Linked DNA regions of Homo sapiens: region 1 is linked to region 2. A link means that fine-mapping ties the variant in region 2 to the expression of a gene that starts in the linked region. Tissue or cell type: cerebellar hemisphere. Region 2 holds a variant in brackets; the other region holds the start of a gene. All regions are shown on one strand. Distances are from middle to middle.

What was found. PIP is the estimated chance that this variant, and not a neighbour inherited with it, causes the effect.
Region 1: SLC25A27 starts here. The variant in region 2 is fine-mapped to the expression of SLC25A27 in cerebellar hemisphere (GTEx, PIP above 0.99). The same link has a PIP of 0.9 or more in anterior cingulate cortex, atrial appendage, caudate, cerebral cortex, nucleus accumbens and pancreas.

Annotation. Positions count from the first base shown.
Region 1 is chr6:46,650,572-46,655,803 of GRCh38, forward strand. It overlaps SLC25A27 (solute carrier family 25 member 27), which reads left to right and starts at 2,404. Exons shown (of 9, transcript NM_004277.5): 1 at 2,404-2,727. The coding sequence starts at 2,622. It overlaps CYP39A1 (cytochrome P450 family 39 subfamily A member 1), which reads right to left and starts at 2,247. Exons shown (of 12, transcript NM_016593.5): 1 at 1,835-2,247. The coding sequence starts at 2,011. RefSeq lists enhancers at 2,152-2,201, 2,432-2,561 and silencers at 2,222-2,311, 2,742-2,841.
Region 2 is chr6:46,675,061-46,680,292 of GRCh38, forward strand. SLC25A27 (solute carrier family 25 member 27) reads left to right here. Exons shown (of 9, transcript NM_004277.5): 9 at 1,323-3,130. The coding sequence ends at 1,394. The region is part of intron 1 of TDRD6-AS1 (TDRD6 and SLC25A27 antisense RNA 1); the gene reads right to left. It also overlaps a transcript of TDRD6 not described here. Among named protein-coding and RNA genes, the nearest start is that of TDRD6, 10 kb to the right of the region's middle. The variant C/T (reference allele first, on the strand shown) is at 2,078.

The sequences.
Region 1 (5,232 bases), 24 kb before region 2:
TAGCTTACCGGAATCTGGAACTCCTGAGCTCAAGCAATCCTCCCGCCTCAGCCTCTCGAGGAGCTGGGACTACAGGCATGTGCCACTGGACCAGATTAAATTTTTTATTTTTCTATTTAGTTTTTGTAGAAATGAGGTCTTGCTATATCTCCCGGGCTGGTCTTAAATTCCTGGCCTCAAGCAATCCTCCCACCCCTGCCTCCCAAAGTGTTGGGATTACAGGTGTGAGACACAGAGTCCAGCAATAACTTGTTTTGTTTAGTCAGGAAAGCAATAGAGACCTCACAAATATTTAGCCTTCTGACACAAGCTTGTAAAAAAACAGTTCCTTAAAAATTATCAAGATCATATGCATAAGGAAGGCTGTGGGAGACAAAGGAGTATTTCTTTAGGAGATATAATGTTTCATCTATCAGACTAGCAAAAATTGCAAAGAATTATGGTATTCAGTATGGCCCAGGATTTGAGAAGTTAGGCAATTGCATACAGTCAATGGAAAATAAAAATTGCATATTCATACTTCTTTTTCCAAAAGTAACACATTCATATAAACAATTTAAGTGTGCATGTCCTTTGACTCAGCAATTCTACTCCTAGGAATTTATTCTGAGTAAACAATCAGATAATTGCAAAATGTACAACCACACAATCAATACATGCACACAAACACGCAAGAATGTTCACTGAAGCACTGGCTGAAAGAAAAAAGTTTGGCAGCAACCTATAAACCCAACTATTGAGATTTAAGTAAACTATTGTATCCTCCTATGACAAAATATAGCCATAAAAGGAAGATTCAAAGTATTTCATGGTACAGGAAAGTCATTCACATTATATGTTAAAATCAAAAGCACATAAAAGAGTATTATACTATTATTCCATTGTTGTTCATTAAATAGTTGTAAATACATAGGAAAATGACCAAAATAATATAAATACACTAAATTTTTACAGTACAGCTGGTGTGATATTCTGGGTTATTTTTATTTTCATCTTAGTTCTCTTTAATTTTCTATATGTTTTTTACTAAATTGGAATCTCAGAGATTTTGAAGGCAAATGATCAGTGGTAAAATAATGCTACTACGTATAAATTCATTCTACAAATTGGGCTAACCAGATGGAAAATGGGTCACCACAGAAAGTATTATAATTCATAAGAATAATTATAATATCATACAAATTTATTAGACAATCAAATACCATAAAATATTTGTGACTGGAAATTGAATAAAACTTAAAAGACATTAATAAAGGTCTGTTCCTTAAAGTGCTCAGACATTTAAAAGATACTTTCAAGACAAAAACATCTACTACAAGGAGGATTACTAGTCTCTTCAGGCCGTAGTGAAAATGGAGTACATCATCATCAAATAACAACGTCAGCTAAAAATACAGAGCCTGTTTATTGTGTACGGACCAACTGTGCAAGCAATTTGTACAATACTTTGGTGTTAACTCCAATTTGGATACGAATTACTCATTTTCACAAACTTAAATTGGATTACACTTTATCTTTCCCAATTACTGAAAACATTTACTTAACACATACACATTTGGAACTTAACTTCGATGAAGTAAAAATACGAAAAGTTAATCTCTACTTCCAAAAATGTCGATGCACGCTGCAATTGTATTTCATTTCTTTCGCAAAATTTTGCACAGGATATTGTTGTTAATTGTTAGTAGAGGAATTCAGAAATGACTAGATCCTTTAGTTGAGGCAAGCAGGTATGTTCCCCGTGTTCTAGCCCTGCACTTAAGAGTCAATGAAAGAAAGTTTAAAAAAGAAAGCATTGTCTCCTCTGGAGACCCCGTCTGCCACGACCACATACCTTGATTCTTGCTTTCTCTATAAATTCTAGAGGGGCTTTCCCAAACTCAAATCCAACTCCAATCCAAGGAATCCAGCCCTTGATGCACGGGGGTCTACGCAAATTCTTCCGCTGAAGGAGTAAGAACAGAGCAAGGCAACCCAGGATTATAATCACTGTTGGGGAAATTAGTTCCATGTTTTTGTCCAGCACCTTCCAGAAGCAGAAAAGTGTGAAACAGTCCTGCCGTCCCTTGCTTCTTTTCTGTGGGCTACGGAACCTGTCGGGACTCCCAACCTTTCTGCTGCAACTTTTGCAGCTCTCCTTCGTAACTGTAGCTTCCTTCCTCTGTCCCAGTTTTCAGGTGATTTTTCCATTGTCGCTCCCTCCCACCTCCACTTCTCTTTGAATCTCAGCCAGCGCGGAAAAAATGCAAGGAGGGGCAGGGCCGGGCTAGGACTGACGGGCGAGAACCAGCCGCGTTGCCATGGAGGCCGGGGGCGGAGCCGCAGAGGGACCCGCGGCCGGCCAATCAGAGACGTAGCGGAGCCCGGCGGACTACATTGCCCAGTAACCTCCTGGGCTCCGCTGTGTTTTTCTATTCTGGGGTGTAAGGGGCAGCTGGACCACTCCAGCTGGGACTGCTAGGAAGGTTGCGGGTCCACCCGGCCGAGCCGAACGAGGGAAATGGTCCTCACCCGGCCACTCGCCGGTTGAAAAGGGGCCGCCCTGGCAGGGAAGCGGCCGCCGCGGCGCGGTGCAGCGCAGCGGCGAGAAGGAGTGCGTTATCGTCTTGCGCTACTGCTGAATGTCCGTCCCGGAGGAGGAGGAGAGGCTTTTGCCGCTGACCCAGAGATGGCCCCGAGCGAGCAAATTCCTACTGTCCGGCTGCGCGGCTACCGTGGCCGAGCTAGGTACCCGGCTGCCCACGCCTGGGCCTCCCGGGCCAGTGGCACGCGCCGCGCTGGGGGAGGGTGCGCGGGCGGCTTCGCGCCCGGCAGTGCGCATCGGAGAGGTCGCCCCTTCCATGCCCGCCTGGCAGAGGTGGCGGTGGAGGCCAGGCCCGCGGTGGGAGGAGGAGGGATTGAGGTCTCCACGGCCTTTTCCTTCTAATCTCTTCTAATGCTTCCCTTAGGCATGTGCTGTGGTGCTTGAATGTTGTACTTTAAGAAGCTTCGCGAGCTGTCATTCCTCTGTAGGAATCATTTTCCTTTTCATGAGGATGACCTTTTTAAAAACGTAATCTGTTTTCCATCCTTACTGAGATCATCTCTGTGGTTTATAGTCTTACACAGCCACACTGTCATTATCTTGTGGGTCCAAGTTGTGGACCTACCTTGTGGGACTTCCGTTATTAACCTGCCACTCACAGAGCATCGACTACTTGACCTCTTTGAGTGTAATTCATCTATACTGTTTACCTTGCAGGATTCTGAGAAGTCAATAATATATGATTGCTAAACCCAAGGCAGGACACCCATTAGTTGCGACATTTTTATAATTCCTACAATACCAGGGACTGTGGATATATATTTGAAAAGACCCAGTTCTGACCTTCTTACAGGCTGCTGGGGAGACAGAGAAAGACAATTATAATGTGCTACTTGTTATAATGAAGATATTATTAGGTGTCATAAAAGCATAGAAGAGCAGTTACATCTGCCTACATGAGTAAGAAAAAACTTTAAGAGGCCATCTAGAGTGGAATGATGATGCCCTTGAATGAGCAAGTAGCGTTTATTCCAAGGATTTTGTGAGTAGTATACTCATGTGTTTCCTGTGAAGCCTTAACTGTGTATTTTAAGATTACCCTTACATTTTCTTGCCTGTTACAAAAAAATAAAAAGAACAGTTCTGATGCGTTATCATTTGTAAATGTTAGTTGGTCCTATTTTAAGAGTTTATTTTTTAATTCTAGCATAGCCAGCCATGATCAGTTGTTTCGTGCTCTTCCATTTTTGCCTTTTAGCCCCTCTATTTTTTAATGTCTCTCCTTTCGAAAATGATGGAGAATTTTTACTTTTCATTGTTTTTACTGAAATAAAATTCATCAGCTTAAAAAGATCTAAAAGCAGATTGCTGAATGATATTTCCAGGTTTTATTTTTAATTGATGTGTCCCCCTCTGACTCAATGGCTTTTATACAGGACTATTCCTCGTTAAAAATTCATGGAGAGAATTGTGTGTGGAGAATGGATGGGAATCAAAATGTGGGATGGTTTTAAGTACAAACCACTTCAGGAACCTGAAGCATCATTTAACAAACCAGCGAGAAAACAAAACTTATTTTGAAAGACATAATCTGTGTAATATGGAGAAATCTATTAAGATTTTTCAGGTTTCATATGTCAATAAAATATTGCTTGAAGTCTATGCAAGCTACTTCTGTTCTAGGGAAACTGTCAGCAAGATACTAACTTTTCCAAAAACCAGTGGTAAGATTTAATATTCACTTCCCTTCCCCACATTGTTTTCTCTTGGAAAAGGTATACTAAGGTTTTGTGTCAGGTGGTGGTCATTGAAAAGTCTTATATAATGTAAGTAATGTTCATGAACTTGTCTGAATGTTATTATTTTAATTATTCAGGACGTTTTCTGTATAAGGTTATGAGCTCTATCTTCCTTATGTAGGCCGTTTAGCTTAACTGTATTAAGGTAAAAGGTCTGTATCTAATTTAAAACTTAAAACCAAAAAATTTTTCCAAAATACAGTTAGTACTTGTAAGGAGGCCATGAGTAGGCGATGCATATAATTTAGTGCTGGAAAAATAATTCCATATATGCTTTAATTGAAAGGATATTGAGCTTATGACCCTTGCATATAAAAGACAACATTATAAACTCCATTACATCTTCTGTATCTCAAACATTATGTCAGTCATTCATCTGCATGTGAACATCACCCACGAAATTATAGAGTTCAGCTTCATCTAGCATTTGTTATAGTACATAAGAATATATAGTGCAGTATTCTAATGTTACATTAGATCTCAAATAATCATGGCTGCAGTCAAGAGGATAGCACACAATATGGTACTTTAAATTATTTCCCATTGAAAAGCAAAAATTAATGACTAACAGATATTAAAGTTAAATTTCTGAATAGAAAGAACCCAAGGCTTGTCATTTTAATTTTTATTGTTAATGTTTGTTTTTTTTTTTTTTTTTTTTTTTTTTTTTTTTTTTTTTGCTAGTGATCCAGGATGCTCTTGCGTAGTGATTCTTAAATTTGGGACTGTGTGAGAATCAAGTTTCTAAACCCTCTTCAACCTACTGAATTAGAATCCATGGGCACGGGGCTAGGAAATTTCTAATTTTTAAAATCTCCCTAGCTGATTCTGATATATTCTAAAATTTGAGAACAACCAGTCTTGGGAAAATATTACTCCTATGATTTTAGATTTTTGTTTGTTTCTCTG
Region 2 (5,232 bases):
TTGGTAAATCCCATTTATATACCACCCACATTTTTGGCTATATGATCTCCCACTCTTTAAAAACTCTATTCAAAATCTAGCTAAACTCTATCCTGATCCCTTCTACTGGGTAGAGGTACTATGACCTTGCTTTGCTCAGTCCCTGGTTAGTACTTATTTCATTTGCCTATGGATTTTGTTGCTATAATGTCATTAACATGAAGAAGATTGATTACCACAGCAATTAAGAATGATTGCATAGGGGTTCTTAACTAAGACCTCTACCTTCTTCATCCAACTCCAAGTATATTGGTTTACTTCATTTTTATTACAAGAATATGGTATCATCGTAGCTTTATATTCCTTATTTCATCTATGTCATCATACCTTTAAATAACCAAGATATATTCTCCTAAATCCACTATTTAGTGAATTCTCAGTTTACTAATATAGCATGCTCAGTATTTCCAAACAAATATGAGATAAACCTTGCTTTACAAACAAAACCAAATACATTTGATTTTCTAATTGCTTAAGCTTATTTATCTACTCTAGAATGATAGAGCTACTCTCTGTTCAATTTTGATTAGAACTGAATTAGGCAGGAATTATTAGATCCAAGGCACTCTTTCTCTGTTCCAGTGTTTACCCTGTGATTTCCCTCTGTGTCTTTACAGTTTACATCTTTAGCATTTATGTCCTCTTCTAACCCTTATTCTTTTATAATTCCTTTAGATGTAGCCATACCTTCATTCAAGTTAAAGACAAGCCTTTCTGAACTGGAAGGGCTTTTTTCTATTTAATGTGAATTTTTATATAAATGTTGTGAGACATCAGGTGTTGGTTTTATGACCTAAATCTCCATGGATAATCTTTCACCTTCCTCACTTTCAAGTTCTAAAGTGACTTATTTTTATGCTCCATATACAAACTAGATATAGAAAAGCCTGCCTAGAATTCAGGCATCTTGAGTCCCAGCCCTTTAGCCAGTAATGGTTCAATAAAAAGAACTCTGAGAATGGAAAACAGAAGCCTGTGGTCTAGCTCTACAACATGTCAACAGGCATTTGACTGCTAAGCTTCAGTGGTCTCATCTGAAAATCAGGGATATTAATATCTTTCCTTTCTATTGTAAGATGTTGTTTAGAGAAATCTGTGATATATAAGACATAAAAAATGCTTTGTAAATTATAAAGTCCTTTACAAAGGTGAAATACCAAAATATTTGTTTTCAGCCTAAGTGGTTGCAAAATGACTTTGTCATTCAAATATATGTATGCACATATGTAGACTATTTATAATTGCTTTGAAATATGCACTAACTTCTTTGGTTAATCTTTCAGACCCCTTGGTCAATGGTGTTCTGGCTTACTTATGAAAAAATCAGAGAGATGAGTGGAGTCAGTCCATTTTAAACCCCTAAAGATGCAACCCTTAAAGATACAGTGTTCAGTATTATTGAAATATGGGCATCTGCAACACATACCCCCTATTATTTCTACCTCTTTAGGAAGACACCTATTCCACAGAGACTGATTTATAGGGGGCAGCACTTTATTTTTTTCTGGAAACCCAAGTTCTCTTTGACTCCTCTTTTTGTCCAAAAGTGATCTGGTCGGATCTCACAAGGCCATCCAATGAGACCCCGCACAGCATTTTCTAAAGAAGAATCGAAGCCTGACCACTTTCACCTTGGGCAAGAAGGTTTGGCCTTTGAGTTGCTATTCTATGCTGAAGAGCCTGCTTAGAGGAGGAGTACCAGGAGGGAGCCAGCATTTCAGATCTGAAGTAGACGATAGGAATGTGGAAGAACACATACATAGTGCTTAAGAAATACATTTAACCTGTTATGTCAGTATTTATCAATGAAGTTTGATAATTCACTTTTCTGTCATTGTTAAAGCGTACATACTGTAAATTAAAGGGAGGTGAATGGAAATTAATGAATAAACATTTTGAGTTTCCCTAGTGTTGAAGGAAGGTGTACTTTTTCTTGTCAGAAAGATAAAAAAAATCAAGTTGAGATGATGTTTGAATTTCAAGAAAAGAGGCTGCTTTCTGTCAGTGCCCTCTCATTAGATCTGTGTTAATTAGTTAG[C/T]ACTCCACTGCACATGCTAATGACTTCCTCTGACAGCCACACACCGAATCTTGATGAAAAAAGAGAAGAGCATTTGCCTTGTTACATAGTCTGTTACAAGCCAGATATGTTGCTAGCTCTCAAGAGTTGTAATATATTAAGAACTACAACTTATTTGATTAAAACTCAGCTGTATAGATCCTTTTATAAAGCACCTTTTGTTAAACATCAGCCTTTCATTGGTATTTTAAAAGCAAGGCAGATAGATATGAAGTCAGCCAACTCTGACATGCGTCCTTTCTTATCTCCCTTACCTGACACTAGGGGCTCTAGAGAGGCAGAGAGAGCACTCACAAATCACACTAAAACTGCCAGCGGCCTGACTCTTACTCAGTTTAGCAAAAATTCTTGCCTAAAAAGTGATAAGTAAAAATCTGTTTATGGTATACAGTTATGTCTCGAATCTTTGAATCAAATCCATGTTCTTATTTTAGAAAGGTAAGAGTTCTTCAAATTCAGCTACATACCACCGGCTCTCCCAACCTCAGACGGTGGGCATTTCTGGATGGATGGCTGCGGTTATGGATAAAGGCTGTAACTGTTAACACAGAAAAACATGAAAAGCTCAGGCCCAAGAAAGGCCTTGGAGCCAGCCAAACAGAATTTGTTCTAATGGACATGGATGATGTTGAACAGAAAAAAGTTTACAAGTGCTTTGTGGTTGCACTAATGTATACTCACTGCCATTTTAAGAGGGGGAAGTACATTTTAAAATATATTTGAATGTCATGTACTGATATGCAGTAGCTTATTGTTTTTCTAGTTGCAGAGAATGTGAAGTTTAATCTCTTAAAATATTTAGATGGTCTACTTTTTCATTGAATTTGTCAATATGTAATTGCGTTGTAAAATATTATATATATATATATATATATATATATATATATATGCTTAACTTCCCAAGTGTTCTGCATTGAACCACTTAGGGAAAATTTTGTTTGTTTTTATGTTTTGTAATTTTTAAAATTAAGTAAAGACTGGATCAAAATAATTGCATCCAACCTGGACCGTGAACAATTGATTTAGCTTTATTCTTTGTGGGGTCGGGGAGTTGGGATGAAAACACTGCTTACGCACTGACATCATTCCTTGGGATCTGGATCAACACGAATTTCAGGAACTTTTAACCTGAAATGACTCCTTGGGATTATCTAATTTAACCTTCCCATTTCACATGTTAGTAAACTGAGATTCAGAGAAGTAGAGTTGTTTATGCTCATGAGTGACTTAGTAGCAGAGCCAGGATAAAAACACAGTTCTCCTAATATGATTATTATGACTGAGAGTTATTGTTCACTAATTAGGTACCAAGGAAGGGTCTTATGTCATGGTCACAACCCAGTAGAGTCTTCTAAAAACAGATTTTTCCTTATGGCATTTTTATGTCTCATACATTTTAGATGAATCTGAATTGTCTCTAGCATACATTTTAGAATGGAGTCACCATGCTTTAGCTTGAACATGAAGACCTTCTATAACCTAACCAAATCCAGTATACCCAATACTTATCCAATCACATTCATAATTTTCTGGTGAAATCATATCTACTGATTATTTTGGAACATTGCTTATTTTTGCCAACTTGGAATCATCTTGTTTTCCAAAATAATCCTCAGTAAATAAAAAGGATTAAAAATTTCAGTAATTTTTGTGTCCATACTCACAGACTTAAGAATTCCAAACTCACTTACTTATAGTACTACTCTATGTGGTATTTCTCTATTTTTTCTCCTCTCAAATGATTTTTTTCTTACTGAAAATGCATATACTTATTTTTAATTATGTAGTTTTTTATATGTATAAATGAATTAGTATATATAATTATAGACTAAATTTGCCATATATGATATAAATTATATATGAATTAATTTATATATAATTAAAGGGATAACATTTATTAAGTTTGCTTTCAATATGGAATAACATGTCTTTTTCAAGTGCTCCCAATACTATTTGATTGTAAGCTACTAGTGGGTAGGTATACATCTTCCATTTTTATATAAATCTCTGCTCTCTTTAGTAGCATTTCTTTGCTATTAAGAAAAAATGATTACAGCTACGTATAACATGAATCAATTAATTTTATCTTTATTGTTTTAAGAATCTGTGACTGGCCAGGCATGGTTGCTCATGCCTGTAATCCCAGCATTTCGGGAGACCGAGGTGGGCGGATCACGAAGTCAGGAGATCGAGACCATCCTGGCTAACATGATGAAACCCGTCTCTACTAAAAATACAAAAAATTAGCGGGGCGTGGTGGCGGGCGCCTGTAGTCCCAGCTACTAGGGAGGCTGAGGCAGGAGAATGGCGTGAACCCAGGAGGCGGAGCTTGCAGTGAGCCGAGATCATGCCACTGCACTCCAGCCTGGGTGACAGAGTGAGACTCCATCTCAAAAAAAAAAAAAAAAAGAATCTGTGACTATCATATGAGTCTGCAATTTCTCTTTTACTTTGCTAATAAAAAAATAAAAATTCAGGACAATATAAATATGAAAGGATTTGTTATTCAGTCATCTTCAAATTTTCAAGCACATTTATTTACAGTTGTTATAATTACATATATTTTTTCTATTAATGAAAACAAATTCCTTCAGGACTTTCCTAGAAAAAATGGTCAATTTTAATACTTGATGGTTAAAACAATTTCTTTGGAAAGGAAAATAAGTAATTCTTTTCTTCCCAATTAAACTGAGACTCTTTAAAGATGACTACCCAGCAAATATATATTATTATTGAATGTCAGATAATGTGGAAGAAAGACTGAACCCAGAATCTAAAGATCTTTATCCTATTTTGGGTTCTACTTCTGACAGAAGAGTATAACTAGGATCAAGTCCCTCCACTTCTCTGAATTCCCATTTCCTTAAAAGCTGAAGTGGGACGGGCGCGGTGGCTCACGCTTGTAATCCCAGCACTTTGGTAGGCCAAGGCGGGCGGACTGCCTGAGCTCAGGAGTTCAAGACCAGCCTGGGCAACACAGTGAAACCCTCGTCTCTACTAAAATACAAAAAATTAGCATGCGCCTGTAGTCGCAGCTACTCGGGAGGCTCAGACAGGAGAATTGTTTGAACCCAGGAGGCAGAGGTTGCAGTGAACTGAGATCACACCACTGCACT